Homo sapiens: one gene and its partners. The protein of the gene in region 1 purifies or fractionates together with the protein of each later gene. This does not show direct contact. Each region holds a gene or a part of one and is shown on either strand. Other genes may lie near its edges. The genes, in order: SFXN4, HP, SERPINA3, TCN1, BPIFB1, PIGR and TMEM131L.

What was found.
Region 2: the proteins of SFXN4 (region 1) and HP purify together in Homo sapiens (affinity purification with mass spectrometry; one large-scale study listed by BioGRID and IntAct). This does not show direct contact.
Region 3: the proteins of SFXN4 (region 1) and SERPINA3 purify together in Homo sapiens (affinity purification with mass spectrometry; one large-scale study listed by BioGRID and IntAct). This does not show direct contact.
Region 4: the proteins of SFXN4 (region 1) and TCN1 purify together in Homo sapiens (affinity purification with mass spectrometry; one large-scale study listed by BioGRID and IntAct). This does not show direct contact.
Region 5: the proteins of SFXN4 (region 1) and BPIFB1 purify together in Homo sapiens (affinity purification with mass spectrometry; one large-scale study listed by BioGRID and IntAct). This does not show direct contact.
Region 6: the proteins of SFXN4 (region 1) and PIGR purify together in Homo sapiens (affinity purification with mass spectrometry; one large-scale study listed by BioGRID and IntAct). This does not show direct contact.
Region 7: the proteins of SFXN4 (region 1) and TMEM131L purify together in Homo sapiens (affinity purification with mass spectrometry; one large-scale study listed by BioGRID and IntAct). This does not show direct contact.

Annotation. Positions count from the first base shown.
Region 1 is NC_000010.11:119,159,215-119,162,714, forward strand, and holds part of SFXN4 (sideroflexin-4), read right to left. Parts: intron 3,201-3,500; coding exon 3,126-3,200; intron 1,868-3,125; coding exon 1,841-1,867; exon of another isoform or gene 1,756-1,840; coding exon 1,701-1,755; intron 540-1,700; coding exon 514-539; intron 1-513. UniProt on the Homo sapiens protein: Mitochondrial amino-acid transporter. Does not act as a serine transporter: not able to mediate transport of serine into mitochondria.
Region 2 is NC_000016.10:72,053,203-72,057,304, reverse strand, and holds the start of HP (haptoglobin isoform 1 preproprotein), read right to left. Parts: upstream 2,801-4,102; 5' UTR 2,653-2,800; coding exon 2,648-2,652; intron 1,145-2,647; coding exon 1,062-1,144; intron 776-1,061; coding exon 674-775; intron 1-673. UniProt on the Homo sapiens protein: As a result of hemolysis, hemoglobin is found to accumulate in the kidney and is secreted in the urine. Haptoglobin captures, and combines with free plasma hemoglobin to allow hepatic recycling of heme iron and to prevent kidney damage.
Region 3 is NC_000014.9:94,615,391-94,618,890, reverse strand, and holds part of SERPINA3 (alpha-1-antichymotrypsin precursor), read right to left. Parts: intron 1-3,500. UniProt on the Homo sapiens protein: Although its physiological function is unclear, it can inhibit neutrophil cathepsin G and mast cell chymase, both of which can convert angiotensin-1 to the active angiotensin-2.
Region 4 is NC_000011.10:59,863,688-59,867,987, reverse strand, and holds the start of TCN1 (transcobalamin-1 precursor), read left to right. Parts: upstream 1-1,500; 5' UTR 1,501-1,517; coding exon 1,518-1,596; intron 1,597-3,901; coding exon 3,902-4,081; intron 4,082-4,300. UniProt on the Homo sapiens protein: Binds vitamin B12 with femtomolar affinity and protects it from the acidic environment of the stomach.
Region 5 is NC_000020.11:33,303,714-33,307,213, reverse strand, and holds part of BPIFB1 (BPI fold-containing family B member 1 precursor), read right to left. Parts: intron 3,257-3,500; coding exon 3,189-3,256; intron 2,369-3,188; coding exon 2,323-2,368; intron 1,213-2,322; coding exon 1,149-1,212; intron 304-1,148; coding exon 227-303; intron 1-226. UniProt on the Homo sapiens protein: May play a role in innate immunity in mouth, nose and lungs. Binds bacterial lipopolysaccharide (LPS) and modulates the cellular responses to LPS.
Region 6 is NC_000001.11:206,936,467-206,939,966, forward strand, and holds part of PIGR (polymeric immunoglobulin receptor precursor), read right to left. Parts: intron 2,998-3,500; coding exon 2,653-2,997; intron 1,286-2,652; coding exon 629-1,285; intron 1-628.
Region 7 is NC_000004.12:153,472,860-153,476,359, reverse strand, and holds part of TMEM131L (transmembrane protein 131-like isoform 1 precursor), read right to left. Parts: intron 2,516-3,500; coding exon 2,472-2,515; intron 1-2,471.

The DNA of each region.
Region 1 (3,500 bases):
GGTTGCAGCGAGCTGAGATTGCGCCAGTGCACTCCAGCCTGGGCAACAGAGCCAGACTCTGTCTCGAAAAACAAAAAAAACCCAAAAAACCAAAAAGCACCTCCCAAGGGCCAAGGTGAGAAAAGCCTCACAGGGACAATGCCAGGTCCCAGGTGAGGGGCTGTGTCAGAGGAGGACTTGGTGGCCAGGGGTTTGTGCAGGGAGCTCATCCTAACTCACTGGCCGCTTCTACCGTGCTCTGCGCATACTTGGTGTTCAGAAAAGGGATGACCTTGCCAAGCTGTGGGCCTTCCAGAGGCCCGGATGCCTGACTGGGAGGGTGTGGGGAGGGGGAGGGAGTGGGGACAAGGACGTATGAACAGCAGCCATGGGTTATCAGTGGGGATCCACAACCATCTATCAGGCAGTCATGTGACAGGGGTCCGGAGCTGGAGGGACACAGCTGAGGTTAGGAGGAGAGTGGCCATCTTCCCAAGCCCCTAGTCTCCTAACGGCAAATGTCTGCTTGCTCACCGTGGGTGCCATGAAAGGCAGGAACGCTGGCAGGAAGAGAAGAGAGGAGGTGTCAGTGATCACAGTTGCCCAGGCAGAGGGGGCCAGAAGGGGACTACCCACCTGAACACCTCTTCCCCAGCTTCCAGAAGGCACAGACCTCAAAGGACTTTTTCCACTCATTCTTTGTTTTTCTAATAAAGTGGGGGGTCAAGGTCTCAGCACTTTGGTAGGCTGAGGCTGGAGGATGGGTTGAGGCCAGGAGTTCGAGACCAGCCTCTATTTTGTAGAGGTAGCGAGACCCCCACCTCCATAAAAAATTTAAAGCCAGGTGTGGCGGCATGACCCTGTAGTCCCAGCTACTCAGGAGGCTGAGGTAGAAGGATCAGCTGAGCCTGGGAGTTGGAGGCTGCTTTGAGCTATTATGGTGCTACTGTACTCCAGCCTGGGTAACAGAGCGAGACCCTGTCTCTAAAAATGACAATAATAATAAAGTATGTACATAAAATTACTATAACATGGCCAGGCACAGTGGCTCACGCCTGTAATTCCAGCACTTTGGGAGGCCAAGTGGGCGGATCAGAAGGTCAGGAGTTCGAGACCAGCCTGGCCAACATAGTGAAACCCTGTCTCTACTAAAAATACACAAAGGAAAAAAATTAGCTGGGCATGGTGGCAGGCACCTGTAATCCCAGCTACTCAGGAGGCTGAGGCAGGAGAAATCACTTGAACCTGGGAGGCGGAGGTTGTAGTGAGCCGAGATTGTGCCACTGAACTCCAGCCTAGGTGACAGAGCAAGACACTGTTTCAAAAAAAAAAAAAAAGAAAGAAATCCTGCTGGGGGAGAAATAATTAAAGCAAGGCAGGCAGAGTTTTCTTTTCTTTTTTTTTTTTTTTTTGGACACGGAGTTTCACTCTTGTTGCCCAGGCTGGAGCGCAATGGCATGATCTCAGCTCACTGCAACCTCCGGCTCCCGGGTTCAAGTTCAAGCAATTCTCCTGCCTCAGCCTCCTGAGTAACTGGGACTACAGGCACGTGCCACCACAATGCCCAACTAATTTTTTACATTTTTAGTAGAGACGGGGTTTCACCATGTTGGCCAGGCTGGTCTCGAACTCCTGACCCCAGGTGATCCGGCAGGCAGAGTTTTCTAAGTGTTAGAAACTACATCTTCCCAACCCACTTCTGAAAATTAGAACCAACTCACCTGCAGGTCGAAAAAGCTTGGGGATCAGGTTGCTGCTGTCGGGATGCACTGTTGCCTTCAAAAGGAGAGATGCAAGGTTAGCTGGATGTCTGGTTTTGTTATTATAGGACACTAAAAATTAGGAAGGGGCTGAAACTTACAAGACTCCGCTTCCAAGCTTCTTGTATCTTAAAGGAGAAAAAAGAATAGCTTTGTTTCATTTTAAATTTTTTTTAAGAGACAAGGTCTTGCTCTGTCACCCAGGGCTGGGGTATAGTGGCACAATCATCACTCACTGCAGAACAGCCTCGAACTACTGGGTTCAAACGATCCTCCCACCTCACCCTCCTGAATAGCTGAAACTACAGGCTCACGCCACCATTCCCAACTAGTTGTTTAATTTTTAGTAGAGATGGGGTCTTGCTATACGGCCCAGGCTGGTCTTGCAGTCTTGGCATCAAGTCATCCTCCCAAACCATTGGAATTACAGGGTTAAGCCATCACACCCAGCCTTAAAAAAACAACAACAACAACAAAAAAAAACAAAAAAAAAAAAAAAGCTTTTAAAGGTGGCTCAACAGCAAAGAATTTCTTTGCCTGTCTCATTTCTGGGACCACATTTGTTCTACCTTTCAGAGAGTGAAGGCCAGAGCTGTTATTTACCACATTGACAGAACAAATCAAAATAAATGGATCATATGAATAAACAAATGAACTAATGACAAGCAAAGAGACGAGCCACACAGAGAAATGGACCAGAACATTAAAAAGTCCTGTCTCTACCCTTGGAGAATACCAACACCTAACTTATCCCTCAGATGAGTCCCCGAATCCGGCTTGCCTCTGGCTCAGAGCAGAGCAGGCTGTGTGCTGATGACACACCATGCCATCAGTCAAGTTACTTGCAACAGAGCCAAGCTGTCAGCCCAGGGTCCCCAGCACATTCTTAGAAAAAGTTAAATATGTGAGCTCTCCATAGGCTGTCTTGAGGAGCTGGTGTTTGTGAGCTCCAGAAAGCCCCACATACTGCAAGGTAGATAAGGAACAGTCCGTTTGAGCCTATCGGCAGGAACGCTGCCTGCAGTGGAGAATGAATTCTGACGTCAGAGCCCTGTCTGAATTCTGGGGTTTGCCACTGGGCTCCAGGAATCAGCTGCAGGGAATCCCCACAAATATCCACTGTGTAGGAGGAAACTTGCTGTCTGGTTTATGGGACAGAATTCTAACTACATTTAAAAAACTAACCCAGTTTTGCAAAGCTGGTCCTCTGGGCAGTATATAACAATGACAGCATTAATAGCCAATAGAACAGTGGCTCCCAAGGGAAGGAAAAAAGAAAGAAAAGAGACGGAGACAGAGATTAATGGCCAAATTCCACCTGACTTCAGACCATGCAGGCAGAACCATCTGAGGGCAACCAGCCAGACCTGAGCACGTGAAACATACCCTTTGGTCCGCCGAGGCAGGGCTGGAAACATCTTCATTTGTGCACAATAGTTGCCTCGAGTTTTCTATACTTTCCTAAAATCAGATATCAAGTAATCAAGTAATGATCTCAACATTGTTCAGGTTTATCCCCAGAGGTAGGAATCACCAGCTCACTCACCAGCATGCACTGGACTTCGACTGCATGCCTGATTTCAAGCCACATGGTGCCCTAGGCTCTCTATCCATTAGGATAGCCCTGAGTGCCATTCAGATTTATGCCTTCCTCTTCCTAGATGCTCCAGCAGCTGCCCCCAATGGTGCTGTCACCTCCCCCACTCTCTGATGTCAACTGTCGCACTGAATGGTTACCACCATCCCCTGGCTATACATGTC
Region 2 (4,102 bases), on another chromosome or scaffold:
AAAGAAGAAGAAGAAAGGAGGCAGACAGGAAGGGAGAAAGGAGAGAGAATATGAGAAGGAGGAAGGGAAAGAGTGCTGTGCTGGAAGCCAAGTGCCTGGACACCAGTTAAGCCCAGCAGAACACACTGTGGTCATGGCGGTCACAGCCAAGCAGTACAGGGAGGGCTCAGGGTTCAAATCCTGACTCTGCCTCTTACAGGCTGCCTGAATTTGGGCAAGATACTCAACCTGTCTGTGCCTCAGTTTCCTTATCAGCAAAGTGAAAACAATAAACTCTGTTCAGAGGGATACTGTGAGGACTAAGTGAGCAAATAAGTATAAAGCCCTTAGAGCAGTGCCAGGACAGCAAGACTCACTAGGTGAGGGTGACATCATCATCAGCATTCCTTCTTTTCCCACATCTGCTGGAGATGTAAATGTGACTCTGAGATTTACATGAGGTAGGCTGCATGGCATCGCCTCCCCTTAACAAAACAGAAAACTTGAGGCTGACAAAAGTTAGTCTGCCCAAAGGGCCATGGCTACTGGCGACAAAACGCTTATTAGAATCTAAATCTCCTGGCTCCAAGGAGAGCAACGAACTTTCTGGCGAATCACCTCAGCACCACCCATCATGGAAATGTCAGAGAAGGGGGTTGTATGTAGGGCATGGAGACAGTTGTCCACATCTTACCATCTCCTTCTGTGCGCAGTTTGTAGTAGTTCTTACACTGGTAGCGAACCGAGTGCTCCACATAGCCATGTGCAATCTCGGGGGGCTTCGGGCAGCCGTCATCTGCAAAGAGAGAGAAGCCAGAGAGTTTGCTATTTGGAAATTGTTCCCAGTGAACCGTGAAAAGTCAGATGAGCGGGAGCTGCTCTGCACATCAATCTCCTTCCACCCCGAATAGAAGCCAATGGAAAGGCAAGCTCCCCTCATTTCTGGCAGGAACCCCAATGTTCTTTATGGTCCTGAAAGCCCAGAGGTCGAGATAAGAAGGGGGAATTGGGTGTTCTCAGAGAGAGTGCAGACCCGAGAGGGTCAGAGTGGGATGCACACTCCTACCCAACCAAAGACTGACCTGCGATATCCGTGACATCATTGCCTGAGTCCACTGCAAAAAGCTGTCCCCAGAGCAGGAGGGCAATGACAGCTCCCAGGGCACTGCAGAGAGAAGACAAGGAGGAGTGGAAAGCTAGTCTCCCTGCTTCACAGCACATGCATGCATCCACACACACATGCATGTACACACACACACACACACATGCATACACACACACTCCTCCCACTTAGCAGCCAGAAAAGAAAGTCGATATATGGAAGTGCTAGGACCAAGAAATTGCCCCCACACCTGCCCATACACACTTTAGCAGCTTCTGAGCATACCAAGCTTCCAGCAAGCCCTGTCCTGCTGGGAATTCTGCAGAAGCTTCAGAGAGGGATAGAAAGGCACATAGGTGGAGGGGTGGGCTCAGTTTCTGGCTGCATTCAGGAAAGTACATTGGCAATAATACAGGAGCCCTCCAGGAAAGAGAAACCTCCCTCAGACACCGCAAAGATAGTGGTAATAAAATGTAGATAACTCAGAGATGGGAACTTTGGGCTTACTGTGCTATTCCTCTACTTCTTGATATTTTCCGTAATAAAAGGTTCCTTAAATATATAATTTTAAACACGTGGGTATTTCTAGTATTTTATAATAATTCACCTTTAGGAAATGGTATCTGAAACCCCAAAATGCCAGAAGGTTACCTGGAAGAGAACTGGTGTCCAAAAGCAGGACGGTGGCCATGGGCATTGACCCACAGGTGCCGTCTGCCAGTTCACCATCTCACTAACAAATGCCAACCATTCGGGCACTACTTGCTTCTATTAAAATAGTTTCTAGGCCAGACACGGTGGCTCATGCCTGTAATCCCAGCACTTTGGGAGGCCAAGGCAGGCAGATCACGAGGTCAAGAGATCGAGGTCATCCTGGCCAACATGGTGAAAGCCCGTCTCTACTAAAAATACAAAAATTAGGTGGGCATAGTGGCGCACGCCTGTAGTCCCAGCTACCTGGGAGGCTGAGGCAGGAGAATCACTTGAACCTGGGAGGTGGAGGTTGCAGTGAGCCGAGATCATGCCACTGCACTGCAGCCTGGTGACAAAGCGAGACTCCATCTCAAAAAAAAAAAAAGTTTCTAGTCTTATTATTTCAACATTTCAAAAAGTGTTTATTTTTATAAGATCTAAGTGCCTTAATTAGATGTATCCCAGGTATTAGTGTGTATCCCAGGTACTAGTCAATTAATTGTGTCATTCAAATGTGTTACTATTAGTCTTCCTTATTGTACATTTTTAAAGAGGAAAATATCTGCTAATAAATATACTCAGGATGCCAGGAAGCCTACCACGGGAGCTGATGACATACCCTATAAAGTCAAAAATGTAACCTGAAGGAAAAAGACACTCCTGAGAGTAAATCTTATCTCCTGGGAAAGACAGCAGCACTGTCTTCTATGGATGCAGAAAAGGAGAAGATTTAACACACTAAGCCCTTTGGTTCACTATAATTTAGCCCATTTGCCCGTTTCTTTGTTCTATTTCTGCATCTCTACCGATGTATGCAAAAAAGACTGAAATAAAGAACCAGAGGAAAGGCAGGAGGGAAAGCTGTGGACCCACCTCATCTTGGTTGGTCTTGCCTCTGGAAGAGCAGTGCTGTGGGGCATCTGCTGGTCTTTTTATGCTGCCACTAGCTCACTTCTCCCCCTTCTCCATTTCGTAATTCCTGTGTCTACAAACTTTGGCCCTGGTAAGGTCACTATCTTTTCCAGTAACAAAACCACAAACAATACCCCTGTTAAGAGTTGAGCTCTTGCTTCACACTTGATTTTCTTGTGATGTTCTATTACAAATCCCAAGAAACCTGGCAACTCTATGACCCACAAACCTGCCAAAGTATTTCCTGAAATCAGCAACTGGGCAGGACAGGGCGGCGGCAGGAACCATCAATCTGTCTCTTTATCTTGGAGGATTTTCACACTGCAGAAAGGCTCATTTTGAGTTTTTTCAAACCCATTGTAGACATTTCTGCAGCCTAGCTTAGGTGGGGCTCTAAAGAAAGTACTTCCTTTTCACAGTAATTTTCTCCACCTTGTGTGTGGCCATCTCCCTATTGCTTAAAAGCTCTCCAGCCTGAAATCAGTAAATGTGTTTATTGTGTCTTCTCTGATTGCTCTTTGCAAGAAATCACACAACTAGTTAAAGCTATAGTGTAGACTGACACAGACTATACTCAATGGCAGTGGTTCTCATGGTTTTATAGTCTGGTGATTAGCCTAAATAGGCAGATGAGAAAAATCAATATGTCTCAGTCAAATGTCTGCACCTGTGTGTATCCCAGGTACTAGTCAACTGAAACTTAGTAGCAACTCAATACAAGGTTGATTTATTCATTAAAAAGGGTTAGTTGTTCTTAAATTAGAGTGTACAAAAGAATTACTTTTGGATAATCATGGTGACACTGATATAATAGCAAAGTAACTAGAAACAAGACAAATGCCCATCAACAGGAGGAAGGGTCAATACTGCATTGTATGTGGATATAATGGAATATTATACAGCATAAAATGAATAAACTCTGCAAGAACATGGATCATCTTATAAACATAATTTTTGAAAGAAAACCGCAAGTTTCAGAAGATTACCTTCAGTATGATGGCAGTCTTCTAGAGATCAAAACCAAGTAAAACTTGGCAATGGATTCTTAGATAATGACACCAAAATCACCAGCAATCAAAGAAAAATTAGATAAATTGGGCTTCATCGGAATGAACATTTGTGTATCAAAAGACAGTATTAATAAAATGAAGACAGGCCAGGCGTGGTGGCTCACGCCTGTAATCCCAGCACTTCGGGAGGCTGAGGTGGGCGGATCATGAGGTCAGGAGTTTGAGACCAGCCTGACCAATGTGGTGAAATTCCATCTCTACTAAAAATACAAAAATTAGCCAGGCATGGTGGCGCATGCTTTAATCCCAGCTACTCGGAGGCTGAGGCAGGAGAATTGCTTGAACCTGGGAGGCAGAGGTTGCAGTGAGCCTAGATCGCACCACTGCACTCCAGCCTGGGTGACAG
Region 3 (3,500 bases), on another chromosome or scaffold:
CAACATGTGGGAGGCTGGTGCCTGAGGAGAAATGGGACAGCCTTTGTTCCATAAAAGGAAAAATGTCTCATTAGCAATTATTACTCACTGGTATTACAGGGATGTGAACATATAACAGTGGCTTGTGGGAGGGCTTTGGGTGGAAATAAGAGGAAAGAGACTGGGTTCTGTATGTGAGTTGGTGAGGGCAGACAGAAGAGATGCCAATCAGTGTGAATGAGGGGAGGAACAGGAAGAACCTTAATGGAAGATAGAACTCAGAGCCAGGAGAGACCATGGGAATAAAAGCCTAGGGACACTTGTGACATCTTAGAGGATAGCGGTGTTGGACATCACAAAAGCCATGAGCTGGCTATGGTCCTTAGCTCATATCTAGCTCATGTCCACCTCTACAGACCATGAATATTCAGCTAAGATTTGCCCTGGATTCAGTGTCTGTCAGGCTGAGGATTCAACTGTGGGTGTTCTGACTCTGAGGCTGCCTAGGCTCTCAGTGTTGCAAAGGTAAAATTCCATGAAACTGCCTCTGGTACCTCTAGCTATCACAAACCTGAAATGCAGCCTGACTCCTAGCCAGGCTGACATAACTCCTCTCACTAAAGGCCTATTTACCATAGTAAAGAGAAAGAGAAAATCTTGAAAGAGGTAGAGGTAGAGGCAGAGGGAGGAAAACTCCACCTTATCTAAAAAGGAATAAGGATGAAAATGACAGCAGACTTCTCATCAGAAACTATGCAAGCAAGGGAAGAATGGAGTAAAATATTTAAAATGTTGAAAATTCCATGAAACTCATTCTTTGGGAATCATGACATAGGCCCATGATTCGCACGCATTTAGTTGGGTACAATTATTTTCCTCCCCTAGAACAGGGGTCAGGAAACTATAGCCTGTAAGCCAATACAGCCATAGCTTATTTTTGTGTGTACCTAAAGCTAAGAATGGTGCTTATATTTTTCAAAGGTTGTAAAAAAAATGAAGAGGAAAGAGAAGATGAAGAAGATGCAGAGGAGGAAGTCAAAAAGAAGAATCTGCCCTCATGTGGACCACACAGCCTAAAATACATACTACTAGGCCCTTTATGGAAAAAAAATTGTCAATCCTTTCTCTAGGTTGTGGGCTCCACAATCTTTCACCTCCATTCTTGGTTTTAGGAGATGCTTGGTAAAAGCTCATAAAGTCACAAACGGCTTTACTTTAGGGGTTAAAATGAGGGAGCAAAAGGAATTTTCAAATGGGCCCAGGTCAACTTTGAATGTTTAATTATTTGCTTTTCTGGACGGCATGTCTCCTACCTAACAAATGGCAATACCACCATCCACCTTTCAGAGCCGCTGCGAGAATTAAACGAGGTATTGCATGTGAATGGCTGGTGAGAGTAGCTGCTCAATAAATGGGAGCTTCTTTCCTTTCTTTCTTTATTTTGGTTTTTCTTTCTGTAATTGCAATGAGAGCCAGCTTCTGGGTGGCCCTACATTCTCTTGTGCCCTCATCTTCCTTCTTGACACTTCCCCACCTTTGGGCTTTCTAGGACCAAAATAACTGTCCATCTTTCCTTTCCCCTCCCCAAAGACCATCTCAGCTTCTCTGGTCCCTGCAGCCTCCCAACATGGAATGACTGGGGACAAATGTAATTGTAAAGATCCCTTGGAGAAAGGACCCATCTCAGGGTAGGAGATATTTCAGTTGAACAGGTGTCCCCGTTACCAATTGCAGCAGCCATTCAGGGGCTTCTGTGGCCTCCATGTGAGGGCAGTGCCATGGAGCACCTTCCCATATTACCCAGGGCACCGAGCTCCTTTGGGGCCTTTCAGCTGGCCAGATCTCCAGCATGGGTCCCTGCCAGAAAGATGGGCTGCCTCTGGGGACCCTGACTGCTGCCTTGTATGCCAGAATGGGGAGAGAGATAGGTTTGGTGGATGAAATCACCACCCAAGCTCTACAAGCCTTTAAATCTTCTCACATCTGCTCCCATCTCCCCCCATTTCTGTCTGCCAGCCACCAAGTTTTCCAATTTTGCCTCCTTAACATCTTCTGACATCCTCAGCTGTTCAACTGAGGGCCCGAATGTCTGGTTAGTCTAGTGTCTTTAGTATCTGATCTCTGCTTGACTCAACTTTCTCTCTGCTGTAACGGCCTTCGCTTCTTATTCTATCTGGATTTAAGAGAAAAGACGAAAACCGTTTTCTAGGGGAAACCTTCCTTTCTTGAATTCCCATCTTCTGCCCCTGGTTGGATGCCCCCACCCCCTTACTTTCAGCTGAATACATAGTTCTAGCATCACTGGGTGAGTCAATCCTTGCATGCTCTTGGGTCCAGTGGGTGCAATGGAAGAGGAAGAGCAGAAAGGGAGGGAACAAGCACTCCAGGGTTCTGAGCTGGGACTGTCTCAGCCTGAAGCTCATGCATGCTCGGTCCCCTCCACCTTCCACAGGGCTGCCCCAGCAGTGACCAAGCCCCGTCACATACACTGTATGTAAACCAGGCTGAGGCAGGGAGCAAAACTGGCACCTGGAGAGTGAGGAGAGGTCAACAGAGGAAGGGGAGGGGCCCTGCAGGTCTCCACTCCAGGAGGACCAGAGCACTGAACAATGAGGGGGGTGGGAGCTTCCAGGGGAGGCTGGAGACATGGGGCCACCTCCACTGCCCACCTGTTTACCACCTGCCTGTTTCCCATTGTTAGAGGCAGGTGGGGAGGGGAAAGCTAGGCTGGCTACTGTGTCCTGGAGGGGAGAGTCCTAGCATAGGGCTAGGTAGTAGGAGGCGAGAACATGGGAAACTCAGAGAACAAATGGCACGTGAGGCGTGGAGTAGTCTTAGAGGGAGATCTGGATCCACGCCTTCATTTACAGATGAAAACCCAGGCCCAGGAGGGGAAGTGGCTTGCCCAGGAATCAACCAACAGCTTCCAAGCAGGACTCTGCCTCCAAGCAGCTCATGTCTCCTAAGCACCTTTCCACCCTCTGGCTCAGTGATCACTCTTTGTGTCCCTATCTCTTTTTTTGTCCCCATCTGGACTGTGGGCTCCAGGAGGCAAAAGCTACCGGCTTGCACTCTGCCCCTTCGGAGCTTGCAGGCTGAGGTTTGCATTGGTTGAGTTTCTATCAATGGGATTGGGCACTGGACCAGTTAGAATCTGGCAAAGGGTCATGTTTTGTATACTGCCCACCCTTGAGGCTCTTCCCCAGATGGGAACAATGCCATTTCTGCCCTCATTTGTTATGTGTCAGTGACATATTTTTTAAAATAATTAAAGATGATAGCAGAGTAGAATCATAGAATCTTGGAAGTGGCCAGGCTCCTTGGGGATTATCTTGCCCTGTGAAGATGGCCCCAGCCCCACCTGGCCACCTCCAGACACCAAGGCCCCTGGCTGGAATGTGCTCCTCCCACATGTGCAGGGCAGGAGCCCCAGGTGCATCCAGACAGAGGGACTTCCTGGCCTAGTCTAGCAGCACCCCTGCAAGGAGGGAGCTCTAGCTCCTACGCGCCCTGGAGTGGTT
Region 4 (4,300 bases), on another chromosome or scaffold:
TCCTCCTTGGTTAGGAAACTCTCATGGAATCTATCTTAGGAGAAAAATCATAGTTTGGAAACCACTATGCCAAAGATCCCCTCATGTGCTGGGTTCTCCAATACTGCCTGCTTCAATTTCAGACTTACAACTTTTACTTCCGTTTTTAAATTTTTTTATTTCAATTTTTGTAGGTACATAGTAGGTGTATATATTTATGGGGCTCATGAAATGTTTTGATACAGGCATGCAATGCGTAATAATCACATCATAGAGAAGGGGGTATTCATCCTGTCAAGCATTTATCCTTTACGTTACAAACAATCCAGTTATACTATTAGTTATTTAAAATGTACAATTAAATTATTATTGACTATAGTCACCCTGTTATGCTACCAATAGTAGGTCTTATTCATTCTTTCCAATATTTTGTACCCATTAACCCTCCGCATCTCCTTCCCACCACTAGCCTTCCCAGCCCCCAGTAACCATCTTTTCATTCTCTATCTCTATGAATTCAATTGTTTTGATTTTTAGATCCCACAAATAAGTGAGAACATGCAATGTATGTCTTTCTGTGCCTGGCTTATTTCACTTAACATAATTATCTCCAGTTCCATCCATTTTGTCACAACTGACAGGATTTCATTCTTTTATATGGCTGAATAGTACTCCATTGTGTATATGTACATTTGCTGTGTTCATTTATCTGTTGATAGACACTTAGCTTGCTTCCAAATCTTGGTTATTGTAAACAGTGCTGCAACAAACATGGGAGTGCAGATATCTCTTCAATATACTGGTCTTCTTTCTTTTGGGTATATAGCCAGCAGTGGGATTGCTGGATCATATGGTAGCTCTATGTTTAGTTTTTTGAGGAAGCTCCAAACTGTTCTCCATAGTGATTGTACTAATTTACATTCCCACCAACAGTGTACAAGGCTTCCCTTTTCTCTACATCCGTGCCAGCATTTGTTATTGCCTGTGTTTTGAATAAAGCCATTTTTAGCTGAGATGAGAGGATATCTCATTGTAGCTTTGATTTCCATTTATCTGATGATCAATGATGTTAAGCACCTTTTCAAGCACTTTTTCATATGCCTGCTTCCCATTTGGATGTCTTCTTTTACTTCCATTTTTATATGTTGTATGTGTTTGCATGATCAAATCTACTTTATCAGGAAACATAAAACATAAAGTGAAACGGAAAAAAAAGGAAAGATTATAGGAAACAGTCATTTGCCTAATATATCTTCACTGCACGGAAGGCAAATAATAGATATGAAACCCGAAGGTTTAGGACAGGAGACAAAGGAAAGTTATTGCCTTATTCTCCCTAACCACATCCTTCAAGTCTTCTTCCTTATTTATTACATCACATGGACAAATACACTTGACCACACCTCCTGACATTGCTCAATATTTGCTTGAGTGAAAAGAGGCTGAGGCAACCTGAAGGAGGAGCTCTCATTACCTTCTGCCCATCACTTAATAAATAGCCAGCCAATTCATCAACATTCTGGTACACTGTTGGAGAGATGAGACAGTCACACCAGCTGCCCCTAGTGGGGCTCTTACTGTTTTCTTTTATTCCAAGCCAACTATGCGAGATTTGTGGTGAGTAAACTTTGAGCTAAAATTACTCTAGAGTGATAGTCTACTGAAAACTGTTGACAAGAGACTCTATGTAGAGTTACCTGAGAAAAGATCCCATTCCAGTTTCGTATGTGGTTGGACTCCATGAATGATGAAAAGGGTGGCAGGAGATGGTGAGGAAAGTCTCACAATGCATGTTGTTGTAAGAGGAATTATAGATTGTGTATTCACTTGCCTAACTGCTCTTTCTATGCTCAGATCCTCTCTAGCACAGCATCCCTACCAAGTAACTCCCTATTCATGTGACTTTTCAATGACAGAAAATTTATGCTCCCAGAAACTTTTCTAGATCATGGAAAGTTATCTTTTGGTCTTGATATGCAATCTTTTTTCCCTGAAATTCAATGCATGATTTTTGGGTTAACCCCTTGTAACTACATAGAAAAAAATAATAATCTCTTTCAAATAGTGATGACTGCTGTCTTGTCATGAGTGAGTTTAGATGTTCCAAGTTGCATGTCCACCTTCCTTCAACTCTTTCCCAGGACACATGGGATAAAGTTCCATCATCTCTTGCATGGGTGTTGACCCCAGAGATTGTGTGGTTCTGTAAAAGAACTTTAAAGTAAGAGAAGGGAAAACTAAATTCAGGTTTAGTTTGATCCCTTAGTTATTGAATGACCCAACATTTCTGAATTTCTTTAGCTTCATTCATAAATAAAGGATAATGAGGGGAGACTATTGAAGCAAATTATCTCATGAAGTCTGGTGCAGTTCTCAAGTGCATGAATTCTCTTTTGTGAGACTTTACTCTGAAATTGAGCTTCAAACCAGTCCAAAGATTACTAGGTGGTACTATCTGTGCTCTCTAACCAGTAAGAAGAGAACACCACAGAAGACAGGCTTGTATACATACAGGCTAAAGCATAGACTCTTCTGACTCTGATTTTTCTTCTTGGCTTGACATTTCCCCTGTTGGATCCTAAGAATAGGGAATGGCTATGTAGGTTTTAGCTTTCAATTCATTTTAAATAATAATGATAATAATTAAATTTATCTTTGAGACTCAAGGAAGCTGATTTGAGTTGTTGATCAGGAACTAAAAAGTCTGTTTCAGGGCCAGAAAATCTGCTGAGCTGGATGGTTCCACAAAATCTCAGAGAACTGACTCACAATTGTTCCATTGTGTCTGCAACAAACCATGACCTTTCTACAATCACTCTATTCAGATCTTCTTGACTCATTCTTTTAAAGTAAAGAAAACTGGGCAAGAGAAATTACATTTCCTTGATTCTCAAGTATAGTGATAAAAACTCCAGTTGAGCTGGAAATAATAGTATGTGCAGCATTTTACAGTTTATTCGGTGGTTTCTTGTCCAATATCTGTAAGGTAAGTGTTAACAGCCACAATTTTTAAATGAGAAAACTAAGAGTAAAACAAGTTACATAAGTTATTATCCACAGTCATAAGTTAAGGAGCACAAAATGTGGCCAAAATCTGAATCCAAACCTCATGTTCTTCTCACTCTCCCACTAATCCATTAGATAATCTGGAGATATGTAGGATTTGGGGCTACTCCTCAAGATTATGGAAAAATACATTGACAAAGTGTCCTGTGTTTAAATAAATAGTAAATCTTTTTATTCTCCTCTATTTCCTTGGGAGCTATGGATTTTCCTACTTCCACAGTATAATGTGACTTCCCTCCATCTCTGGAATTGGGGCATATTGTAGGCTAAAACTGGAGAGTTTTTTACAGGCTGCATAATGCTAAATAATGATCTCGATGCCCAGCCAGCTGGGTAATCAGACAATGAAGTTTTGGGGTCAATCACCAGTATAACACAGAATTATTACCTGCATTTTCTCAACATTAACCCAGTTGATTTAGAAGATGGAGAAGGAAAGAACTGAATCCAGGAAGTAGAAAGTCCTGCTTACTGAGAGTCAGAAGACATGTAGTCTAGTTTCAGCTCAGCCTCCAATTATGGAAGTTTCTTTAAGGACAATCTATCTAAGCTTCATATACAAAATTAGGGAATGATGCTAGATTTCCCAGGCAGGAGTCTGCCAGTACACAATGATAAGTCTGCACCAGTTGTTAAAATATTAAAACATTTTCATGTTGGTTGTTAAAGGAGTAATGTCTGGCATGGGGGTGGGTTCAAGACCCACCTTTGTATTATTCCACCAACACAGTCTGCAGCCACTGGATTGGTCTAGGTCTGTGCCATATCTGTTACTAAATATTTTTATATAACCCCTGCTGCAAGTCTTACTATTTTCTGAGTATGTGTTTCTTATTTCCTTCCTTCTCTGCCACAGAGGTAAGTGAAGAAAACTACATCCGCCTAAAACCTCTGTTGAATACAATGATCCAGTCAAACTATAACAGGGGAACCAGCGCTGTCAATGTTGTGTTGTCCCTCAAACTTGTTGGAATCCAGATCCAAACCCTGATGCAAAAGATGATCCAACAAATCAAATACAATGTGAAAAGCAGATGTAAGTTGCTGTATATTCTGGAAGATTTAGAAAAAAATCTACCTATTTAAAGATTATCTGCAACTAATCCTAAAAAATTATGCATCCAAAGTATCCCTGCTACATCCCTTCTAATGGTACCAAACTTGAGGTAACAGAAACATGCCCAAAATACAATCCCATGCCATTCACCCTAGAGCTAGGTCTTGCTTCTTTTGGTCTTAAAAACCACTTTTCTTC
Region 5 (3,500 bases), on another chromosome or scaffold:
TGACAAGGGGGTGGAAAAAGTGTACTGACCCCAGGCTAGGAGGGTTCCATCCTCAGCACAGCCAACCTTCTCACTTGCAGATGAGGAGGTGAGGCCCTGAGAGGGGAAGGGACTTGCCCAGGGTCACCTGTAGGCTGGGGTTGGAGTGCAGGCCCCACCTCCCAGCCAGGGCTCTCAGTGGCTGTGCCCTCCCTGGGGCAGGATGTTTAGGGCCACACCCACTCACCTTGGTCAGTGAGGACTCAGCTGCCTCGAATCCCAAGGCCTTCACCAATGACACTGGGACCCCAGATCTTAATTTGCCTGAAATAACAAATGTGGTCAGAAACTGATGGGCCTGGGGTGAGACTGGGCAGCCAGGGGCAGGCTCAGGGTTCCTGAAGGGGAGCCCCGGCCTGGCAGGCCTGATCAGACAGCCCCCTCTGCCTCTGCTCGCCTGTTCTCTGGCCCCAGCATTGACCCAGCCTCGTCTACCCTCCCTTTGCCTCTGGCACTGGCTTCTGGCCCCTCACAAAATGCAGTCCTCACATTCTCTTACGCTCTTGCTCAAGAACCATCAGGGGCTCCCATTATCCCCAGCAGAGGTTTCTATACTTTGAGATTTTTCCAGTCTAATAAAATAAAGAAATTAAAAAGGTGGAACTGTATAGGTTACAAACCCTTCCCACCCCTCATTCAACCTGGGGCTGAATTAGAGTGTTGGGCACTGACTGTGCCAGGCACCTCCTGATTTGTGCCTCTGAAGAAGGTACTTCTACGTCCCCATTTTACAGATGGAGAAACTGAGGCTCAGAAGGATTGTGCAGCTTGACCAAGGCCAGGCACTAGCAAGAGGGGGAACAGGGTCTGCTGAGGCGCCTCCAGTTGTCTCTTACACCTCTGTCATTGCTCTCATTGTCTGCTTATGCCTCTGTCTCCTTCCAGCCCTGCAAGTCTGGCCCACTGCTTGGTTCATCTTTACGAGCCCAGCCTCTGGCACTAGCAAAGGAATTGGGCTGAGAAGGTTCTTGGGAGGAGGCAGATTTTGAAGTAGGCTCTGAGGGATGGCTGGGAGATGAATGAAAGGGGCCCCATTCATGGAGATGAGGGCAGGGGAAGTAAAGCCAAGCCCTGGGGAGAGAGGGGGCACAGATGGCAGAGGTATGCACCATTCTGGTTCGGCAGCAGGATGGAGTGGATGATCTCAGTGATGATGTTTTTCAGAACATCAGGCTGTGAGAGAGAGAAGGGGCACTGTCACCCTGGTTGAGCATCTGAAGTTCCCCCCCATCATTCTTCGTGGGTGTGGCTCCTCCCCATGGGTGAGGTGGCTGGTGGAGATGTAGGAATTCCAGGTCCCCTGCTGATCAGAGCTGTGGGGGCTCCCAGGGACCAGATGGGCTGGGTTGGGGCATGAACTCAGCCGCCCCTGGGGCCTGGTAGATGGGGGGATTGGGGTGCATTGGAGGATGCCCCATCCTCAGGGGCCCCACCACTCTGTTGCAGCTGAATTTGCCCTGAGGGAATTTTGCCCTGCATTGCCTGAACTTCTGACTTCTGGAGGGAAGCCAGAAGTCCTGATTTGCATGTGGAACTCTCCGTGTTTTAAAATATTAGTCACCGGGCATGGTGGCTCATGCCTGTAATCCCAGCACTTTGGGAGGCCAAGGCGGGCAGATCATGAGGTCAGGAGATCGAGACCATCTTGGCTAACATGGTGAAACCCTGTCTCTACTAAAAGTACAAAAAATTAGCCGGGCGTGGTGGTGGGCGCCTGTAGTCCCAGCTACTCAGGAGGCTGAGGCAGGAGAATTGCTTGAACCCGGGAGATGGAGGTTGCAGTGAGCCAAGATCACACCACTGCTCTCCAGCCTGGGCGACAGAGCGAGACTCCATCTCAAAAAAAAAAAAAAAAAAAGTCAAAAATAGTGAAAAACAAATCATAAAAACCAGAGAAAACACGCCAGACTGAGGTATTGGGGTTCGGTCTGAATCCCAGCAGGAAAGGGCTGTCTAGGGGCACTGAGGCGCGTCTACGTGTGCAGAATGAGATTGTGAGTCAAGGGCACTTGTGTTCTAATTCAGGATCAAAACTTCACTGAAAGAAAGTGTGTATCTGTGAGTGTATTTGTGTGTGCGTGTGTGTGTTCTCAGCTGTGTCTGACACGTGGTGGCTTCTCTGTAAACACTCGAGGGAAGTTGGACTTTGGTGGAGACCGGCCAGCCCCCCATGGTGCTTCTGTGGGGACCTTGTTTGAAGCAAATCCTGGGCAATATCTGTTTTGAGAGTGGACCATTCCAGGCCACCCCCTGTGCCCTCAGGCACCACCTGTTAACACTTACTTGGAACCAGCCAATCCCAGAGTTCATCAGCTGGATCCGATCAGAGCTGCAATGGAAGATGCCTGTGAGAGCGGCCCCTGAAGTCCCACTCATTCACCATCCACTCATTCAACAGCGATTTATTGAGCACCTATTATGTGCCAGGCACAGTGCGGGCTCCAGTGAACCACATGAAGCCCTTGCGTCGTGGAGCTTGCATTCTAATGGCAGGGGTGGGGTGGGGGGCATAGAGGGGGCACAGAAAACAAATAGCAGTCCAGTGAGCAGAAAAATCAACCTCAGGAGTCAGGGCTGTGGTGGACAAGGAGGCCCAAGCTCCTTCAAAGGGCGCCCCAATTCCTGGCTCGACAGTTTGTTGCTATGTAGGATTGTGGGCACAGGGCAGCCAGATAGTCTGATTTGATATGTGCACAACTCATTTATATTAAACAGCCCAGCCCTATGTGGGCTGATCAAAAGAGCCCTGGGCCTGACTTGTCCCCAGAGGCTCCAGCTGGCAGCCCCTGCACTCACTCTGGGGCCACAGGAAAGTGGCGGGGAGGGAGAACAGGCAGGGTGCAGGAGGCAGCTGGAGCCCTGCACTTCTGTGCCGGGTGACTGTCACTGCCACGGCCTGGGAGGTGTCCAGAGTGGGCTGGCCGCGGCTAGGGTTTGCCTGTGCCGTGGCTGCTGCAAGGCCTACTTCATTTTCCTCCCCATTCCCTCACATGCAGTCCTTGTCAGCAGGAGCATCCGGAAGGACCTCCCTGCCTACCCTGGAGCCGCCTTCACCTGACAGCCACAAAGTCGGTGTTTAAAGAAACCCATGGTTACCAGGCGGGACTCATTTCCATCAGCAGAATCTTCATGATGATTTGTGTGTTTACCTGATGTTATTCAAGTTGAGTATAAGTTGGTCACCTTTGGTGTAAAACTGAGCTTCCGAGCTGGCTTCCTGCAACAAGAGAAGCCCAGGCCCCATTGTTCTCAAGAGGATCCGAGTGTGGAATTAGGGGTTATGCAGGGAGGCTCTGGGGTCTGAATCTCAGTTCCTGGCTCTGGGACCTTGGCAAAGGGTTTGACCTCTCTGGGCCTCACCTGCCTCATCTGTTAAATGAGATAGTACTTGCCTCCACTCCCCATTTAACAGATGACAGTCTAGGCTTGCTGTGGGGAATGATAATGATGACGATGACGAC
Region 6 (3,500 bases), on another chromosome or scaffold:
TTGGAACTGCAAGTACTGGTTTGCTGCTTCTCACGAGGGCAACTCTATGCAGGGTGCTCTGGGATGAGAAGGAGCTGGGATTTAATTCTTTCACCATGCTGATGGCTCACTGGAGTAGGGCTGAGTGGGCCAGATGGTGCTGAAATTCACAAATAACCCTACGAAATGTGACAGTGAAACATTTAGAGGCTGGGGCACTCCTGGGAACGCATTGAGACCAAGATAAGCCAATCCTTTTTCCATCTGAATGTGAGGGATGAGGCACCCATCTTGTTCAGGGGCCAGGGGAGGGGACAGAGGACCCCTGCAGAGCCTGCCACAGCCCTGAAACACAGTCTATAAGTCCTGCCTCAATCAAGAGCTTTACTCACCTCTTGCTTGTTAAGCAGGGACAGCCATCAAAATGACTTTGATAACAGAAGAGTAATTAGGAGCTGCCATCAGGCAGAGGTTGCTTTTTCTTGCTGTCCTGTGCAGCAGCCCACGCAGCCTCCAGTTCGGGGCTGGTCATTGAGTGGATGCTGTTGGCTGATTGATGACTATTGATGAATACACTCAGAGGGAGCTGAGCTTGGCTCTCACCTGCGAGACTGCCCCACCTACTCCCCCTCCCTCTCTAGGGTCTTACCCTCATTGACGAAGAGTTGCCAGGCCTGGATAGGCGAGCCTTCCTGCAGCTGACCATCCGAATGGGCTCCACACAGGTAGCGCCCTGCATCCTCCTTCCTCAGGCCTGTGATCACCACACTGAATGAGCCATCCTTGTCCTGGGGGTTGAGCAGGATCCTGCCCTCAAAGGCTGGGGCCCTCTTCCCCAGGGTGTTGACGACCACGTCACAGTTTTCCCCACTGCTCTGTCGGCACAGAAATTTGGCCACGTTTGCCACCTCAGGGCCCAGGGCACAGTGGAAGGTCACTGAGCCCCTCAGGTCTTCATAAACCAGCTCGGGCTCGGGCTTTAGCACTTGGAGGTCAGCATTCTTCTTATTACTATTGGAATCATCCCCAGCCTGGCAGAGATACTGCCCAGCATCGCTGAGCCTGAGTTGGTTGATGACAACGCTGAACAGTAACTGGCCAGTACCCTGAATATCAAGGCGTATTCTTCCTGTATAGTTGGGATTTACATAACCACTGGAGTCGATGACCAGCACAGGGTACAGGCCTATCTGCTTGTACAAGGACTTCCTCTTTTGAGCATTCTCAGTCTTGAAAGGGCAGTTGATGGTCACCGTTCTGCCCAGGTCCACTGTGTAGACTTTAGTGTCATTTAGGAGCCCAGGACCTGCAGGATGAGGGGTGCAAGGTAGGGGGCAGGCAAGTTACGATTCTACTTTCTTGCAACATAGGACTATTTGCTATTCCTAGTTAGGGTGTGGGTGGACTTATAACCTGGAATGCCCTCCTTCCCAGAGGAATGCTGTCGGAAGGCCCAGCTTGACAGCGGTCTTCTCCATGAAACCTTTCCCAAGCTAACACTAATCTCTCCCTGCCCTGTGCTTTCTTGATACATCTGCATCACTTATTACATCCAATCTGGTGTATGGGTAATTATGTTCTCCATGGACTGGAAGTTCCTTGAAGGCTGGAACATGTTTTTCTCATGTTTGACCCCTCTGCTGTGACAAGCACAATGCCTCTGGGTAGTAGGTGGCCAAATTAATGTGTGCTGAAATGAACAGAATGAATGTAAATGCAGGGTGATGGATTTCAACGCATACAATAGAAGTTTCTAAAAATTACAAGAGTCTAAATGTGAAATGGGCTGTCTCAGGGAGCAGTGAGTTTCTGCTAAAGTGCTTAATCAGAGGCTGCATACCCGTCATCAGCATGTTCTTCTAAGTGTCCGGTTAGGGTGAACTCTAAGCCCTCTTCACCTCTAAAGATTCTGTGGTTTTGAATCTTGATCCCCACCTAAATGACCTCCTCATTTAGTCCACAGACAATAGTATGCATATTCCAAAGGAGCAAGACATGTCTTTGGGAGTCCCCCTGAATTTCTTTTCTCCGTAGACCTCTCTTTTGAGTTGCCCTTGACTATCTAAAACAGCCTCATTGTTAAACCCTTGTCAGAAAGAGCTTTTCTTTTTTTCTCTTTCTCCAACTAGAATAGGCTTGTTAGCAACCCATCCTTTCAGGATCTTGGTCTTTGGTCAAGATCTAATAATCTAATTTACCCTGATAATACCAAAAGACTAAGGGTTCCCAGGTTAAAAAAAAAATATGCATTTTACAAGAAGCCTTTTGGCGGCCCAAACCTTGATGGAAAGGTGCATTAATGATAGGAATTTAAGGATCCCTGTAAATCTCTCCCTACCTTTTCTATCTCCTTAGCCTGATGTCAGATTTCCCTTTCTACCTGTAGCAAACACCAGAAAACTTGTCCTTCTGATACCCTTCTAAGCTGGGGTCTCCAGAAAGCCTAAAATGTTATAGGCCACCAAGTCCTAGAAGGGTTCACTCATCACCCCCAAGTAGGCCCTATCTGTCTCCTTCTCCTGTTAAAGAAGTCTTTGCCTGGGGAAAGGGGTGCCTTCTGACCCCCAACCCGGCTACACATCCTTGTCAGGAAGTTCCTCCTCAAGCCCTCCATGCACCTTAGAGAATTCCCTCTAACTTTCCCCCAGAAGCCCAAGGAGCTTGGATCCTTACCCTGGCTGACCTCCAGGCTGACATCAAAGGACAGGCCTCGGCTATTGATGCCCAGGCCACACTTGTAGCGCCCGGAGTCATCCTGGCTCAGCTGGGCAATGTTCACCACAAATGTGCCGTTCTCCGGGAAGTTGGTGAGGTTAGCCCTGCCTGCATATTTGCTGGAGACGTAGCCCTCCGAGGAGATGAGGGTTATGCAGCCACCTCTAGCTCCCTGCCGGCACCAGTACTTCCGGGTGTGCCGGTTGACAGAGGTGGGTGGGTAGTAGCACGTGATGGACACTGAGTTACCTTCCACACTATTCACCTCCTCGGGACCAAATATGGGACTCTTCGTGGAGATGGCTGTGGGAACAGAAGAGAGAGGCTTTCTGAGGCCCTTGGGAGGTAAAGCCTGTTCCAGATAACCCACTATGAGTAGATGTGGTTTTCTACCTGACACGTAGGCCCTGTGTTGATAATTTATCATATATCACAGCTGGAAAATTGCTGAGATTAAATAAAGTGACTGTTTTAATCATGATTAAATTGGAATTGTTATTCATTAATGATAACCATTTCAAGGACAAGGGAATGACAAATTTATGATAACCCTTGTTTTTTATTTTATATATTTTTATTGTTTTGAGACAAAGTCTCTCTCTGTCGCCCAGGCTGGTGTGCAGTGGCACGATCTCGGCTCACTGCAACCTCCGCTTCCCAGGTTCAAGCGATTCTCATGCCTCAGCCTCCCAAGTAGTTGGGACTACAGGTGCATGCTAGCTAATTTTGGTTTCTATTTAGTAGAGACAAGGTTTCTCCATGTTGGCCAGGCTGGTCTTGAGCTACTGACCTCAAGCAATCCACCC
Region 7 (3,500 bases), on another chromosome or scaffold:
ACTATAAATATAAATTGAAATTTCAGGTTTTTAAAACATTTTTCCTATGACCATAGGTCTAAATATTAATTTTTTTCCTTCTGAATTAAGTTATCAATTCAGGCCAGGCGTGGTGGCTCATGCCTGTAATACCAGCACTCTGAGAGGCTGAGGCCGGCGGATAACCTGAGGTTAGGAGTTCAAGACCAGCCTGGCCAACATGGTGAAACCTCATCTCTACTAAAAATACAAAAATTAGCCGGGCGTGATTGTGTGCACCTGCCATCCCAGCTACTCAGGAAGCTGAGGCAGGAGAATCACTTGAACCCAGGAGGGGGAGGTTGCAGTAGGCCGAGATCACACCACTGCACTCCAGCCTGGGCAACAGAGTGAGACACTGTTTCCAAAAACAAAAAAAGTTATCAATACAATTTGTATTAGTACAGTCGAATCCCTGAGAGATTGGTTCCAGGACGTCTCAAGAATATCAAATTCTGAAGATGCTCAAGTCCCTGATATAAAATGGTATATAGTATTTGCATATAACCTATGCACATCCTCCTGTATACTTTAAATCATCTCTAGGTTACTAATAATACCTAATACAATGTGAATGCTATGTAAATAGTTTTTATACTGTATTAAGGAATAATGACAAGAAAAAGTCTGTACATATTCAGTACAGATACTTTTTTTTTCTGTATTTTCGATCCACAGTTTGTTGAATCCACGAATGCAGAAGTCACAGATACAGAGGGCCGACTGCATACAATTGATCAAACCAACAAGTTTTACAAATTTTGATAGGTAATTAAACACAGAAAGTAAAATCTTATTGAAAATGCATCCTTTAATGAGATGAACAGAGCTATTTTCCCCCCAACTGGTTGATGTGAACATTACCCACTACTAGAATGAGACAGGTTTTTTATCAACTTAATCCTTTCCTTTTTAACTTTTTTAAATGTAAGTACTGAAAAAGCTTGTAAGTACTGAAACAGCTTTATTACAGCACTATCCGTATATTCTCTAAACTACCTCAGTGTTTCATCTAAAAATCACACAGTGAGCCATCATTAAAAGTAACTTGAATGATCTATCAGTTGTCAAATTCATTGGGTCCTCCTTCAATTTTACTAAAAGGAACGATCTGAAAACCACCAAAGTTACTAAAGAATTTGTCATCCAATCAGAGTGGATCACTTTTTCCTAACAAACACCAATATTTCAAATTGCCTCTTTGCCCAAGATGAAGCCAACAGCAGGATTGGGGCTGGGTGGAAGATACAGCTTTCTTTTGTAACGTGGAGAAAAGAGATTGTGAAAGCAGAGGTGGAAAATGGTAACTTACAACTCAGATCAGCTTTAGGAGATACCTACACCCTGGGGGTCTGGAAGCGTAGTCCTTGCAAGTTATCCTCCCACTTATACACCACTTAGAGTGTCTTCGTGTACCTCTAAGGGACCCAGTTTGACAAGTGACCAAGACTGCCCCATGGTATTCTCTTAAAAATGGAATTCACAGGACCGAGTGCGGTGGCTCATGTCTGTAATCCCAGCACTATGGGAGGCGAAGTCGGGCGGATCACTTGAGGTCAGGAGTTTGAGACCAGCCTGGCTAGCATGGAGAAACCCTGTCTCTACTAAAAATACAAAAATTAGCCAGGCATGTTGACACACGCCTGTAATCCCAGCTACTTGAGAGGCTGAGGCAGGAGAATTGCTTGAACCCAGGAGGCGGAGGTTGCAGTGAACCAGGATCATACCACTGTATTCCAGTCCCCTGGTTAAAATTCTTTAACAATTCACACCACACTTAAAAACAAAACTCAAATTCCTTACTGCGACTTCTAAAGGACTACATACCTTATCTCACCATCCTACAAACCACACTGGCCTTCTCCAAGTTCCTGGATTGCCGGCAGGGCTTCCAGCCTTAGGGCCTTTGCACCTCCATTCCCTCTGACCAAAGCACTGTTCCCGCTGCTGTGTGGCTGCTCCTGTTTCCTCCAGGCTTCAGCTGGAATGTCACCTCCCAAAAGGAGCCCATCCACCTCATTATTCTCTACTACAGGAAACTAATTCTTGATAGCTCTTGTCATAAGCATAATTATTTTACTTACAGTAAAGTCTTACTTGCCCACTACACGAAACAGAGGTCTTGTTTGTGTTTCATGTTCAGCACCCAGCACGGTGCCTGGCACTCAATAGATGTTTATAAACAAGAGGGAGGGCACAAGCACATCATGGAAAAAGTGAAATTGGTGAGTGGCGAAGGAGGGGCTATTTCTAACAGCTTTCTAAACAACCTTATTTTAAAACAAAATCGTATTAATGTATTAGAAGGTATAGATACGACAAATGCCAAAGAGAAAGGTGTATTACAGATACTACTAAATACATAAACATGGACATATACTGAGACTTCAGAGAGCACCCAAAGTGGGCAGGGACATTCAGCATGCAGGTTTCCACCCCCATTTTTTCCTTACCTCTGTTCTTGAGAAGGCTCCTCCAGACCCTCTTCAGAATCACCCTATTGAAAAAGAACATGTGTTAACCGTTGTTTCTGTTTGTTCGTTTGTTTTTGAGACAGAGTCTCGCTCTGTCACCCAGGCTGGAGTACAATGGCAGGGTCTCGGCTCACTGCAACCTCCGCCTCCTGGGTTCAAGCAATTCTCCTGCCTCAGCCTCCCAAGTAGCTGGGACTATAGGCACATGCCACCACACCTGGCTAATTTTTGTATTTTTAGTAGAAACAGGGTTTCACTGTGTTGGCCAGGCTGTTCTCAAACTCCTGACCTTGTGATCCACCCGCCTCGGCCTCCCAAAGTGCTGGGATTACAGGCGTGAGCCACTGTGCCCGGCCACCCCTGGGCAAATCTTATAGTCATCTTGCACTGCTCTCCTCCCTTCACCTCCTACCAGAAAGACCTACCCACTCACGGGAAACCCAGTTCCTACCTGTCCTTTCTTCCAACACAGCAGCCCACACCATCAGTAGCCCCGGCTGTATTAGAAGACAAACGCAGCTTTCTTCTCTGCCTGCAGACTGCTGCCTGCAACCATCCGGTGCACCATCGCACTCTGTGCAGCAAAGACCAGTCTCCTCATATCATTCACTCCTTATCACCCTTATCACACAGTAAGGACCCAGCACTCAATGTCATCACTTCAGTCCCTGCTCAAGAACCTACTATGGCTCCCTCCAACTGGTCAGATGCACACCAAGCTCTTCAACAGCATACAGCACTGTCCCACACAGGCCCTGACACACCCAGCCCTACCCCTACAACCACATTGCGGCAAGCACCTGGGCTCCAATTTAAAATGTCCGAGGGAAAATGCTGAACTTAACTGTCTACCAGGCGAGGCTCTGGGCTAGGCCCCAGGCACACACTTGCTGCTGCAGATCTCTAAGGCCTCCCTTGTCCCTAAGCCTTAGCTGACCTCTCCAAAGCAGGGTGCCTCTTCTCTCAGTTCCTATATTTCAGCACTTGACTGTGGTCCCAGGGTATTAC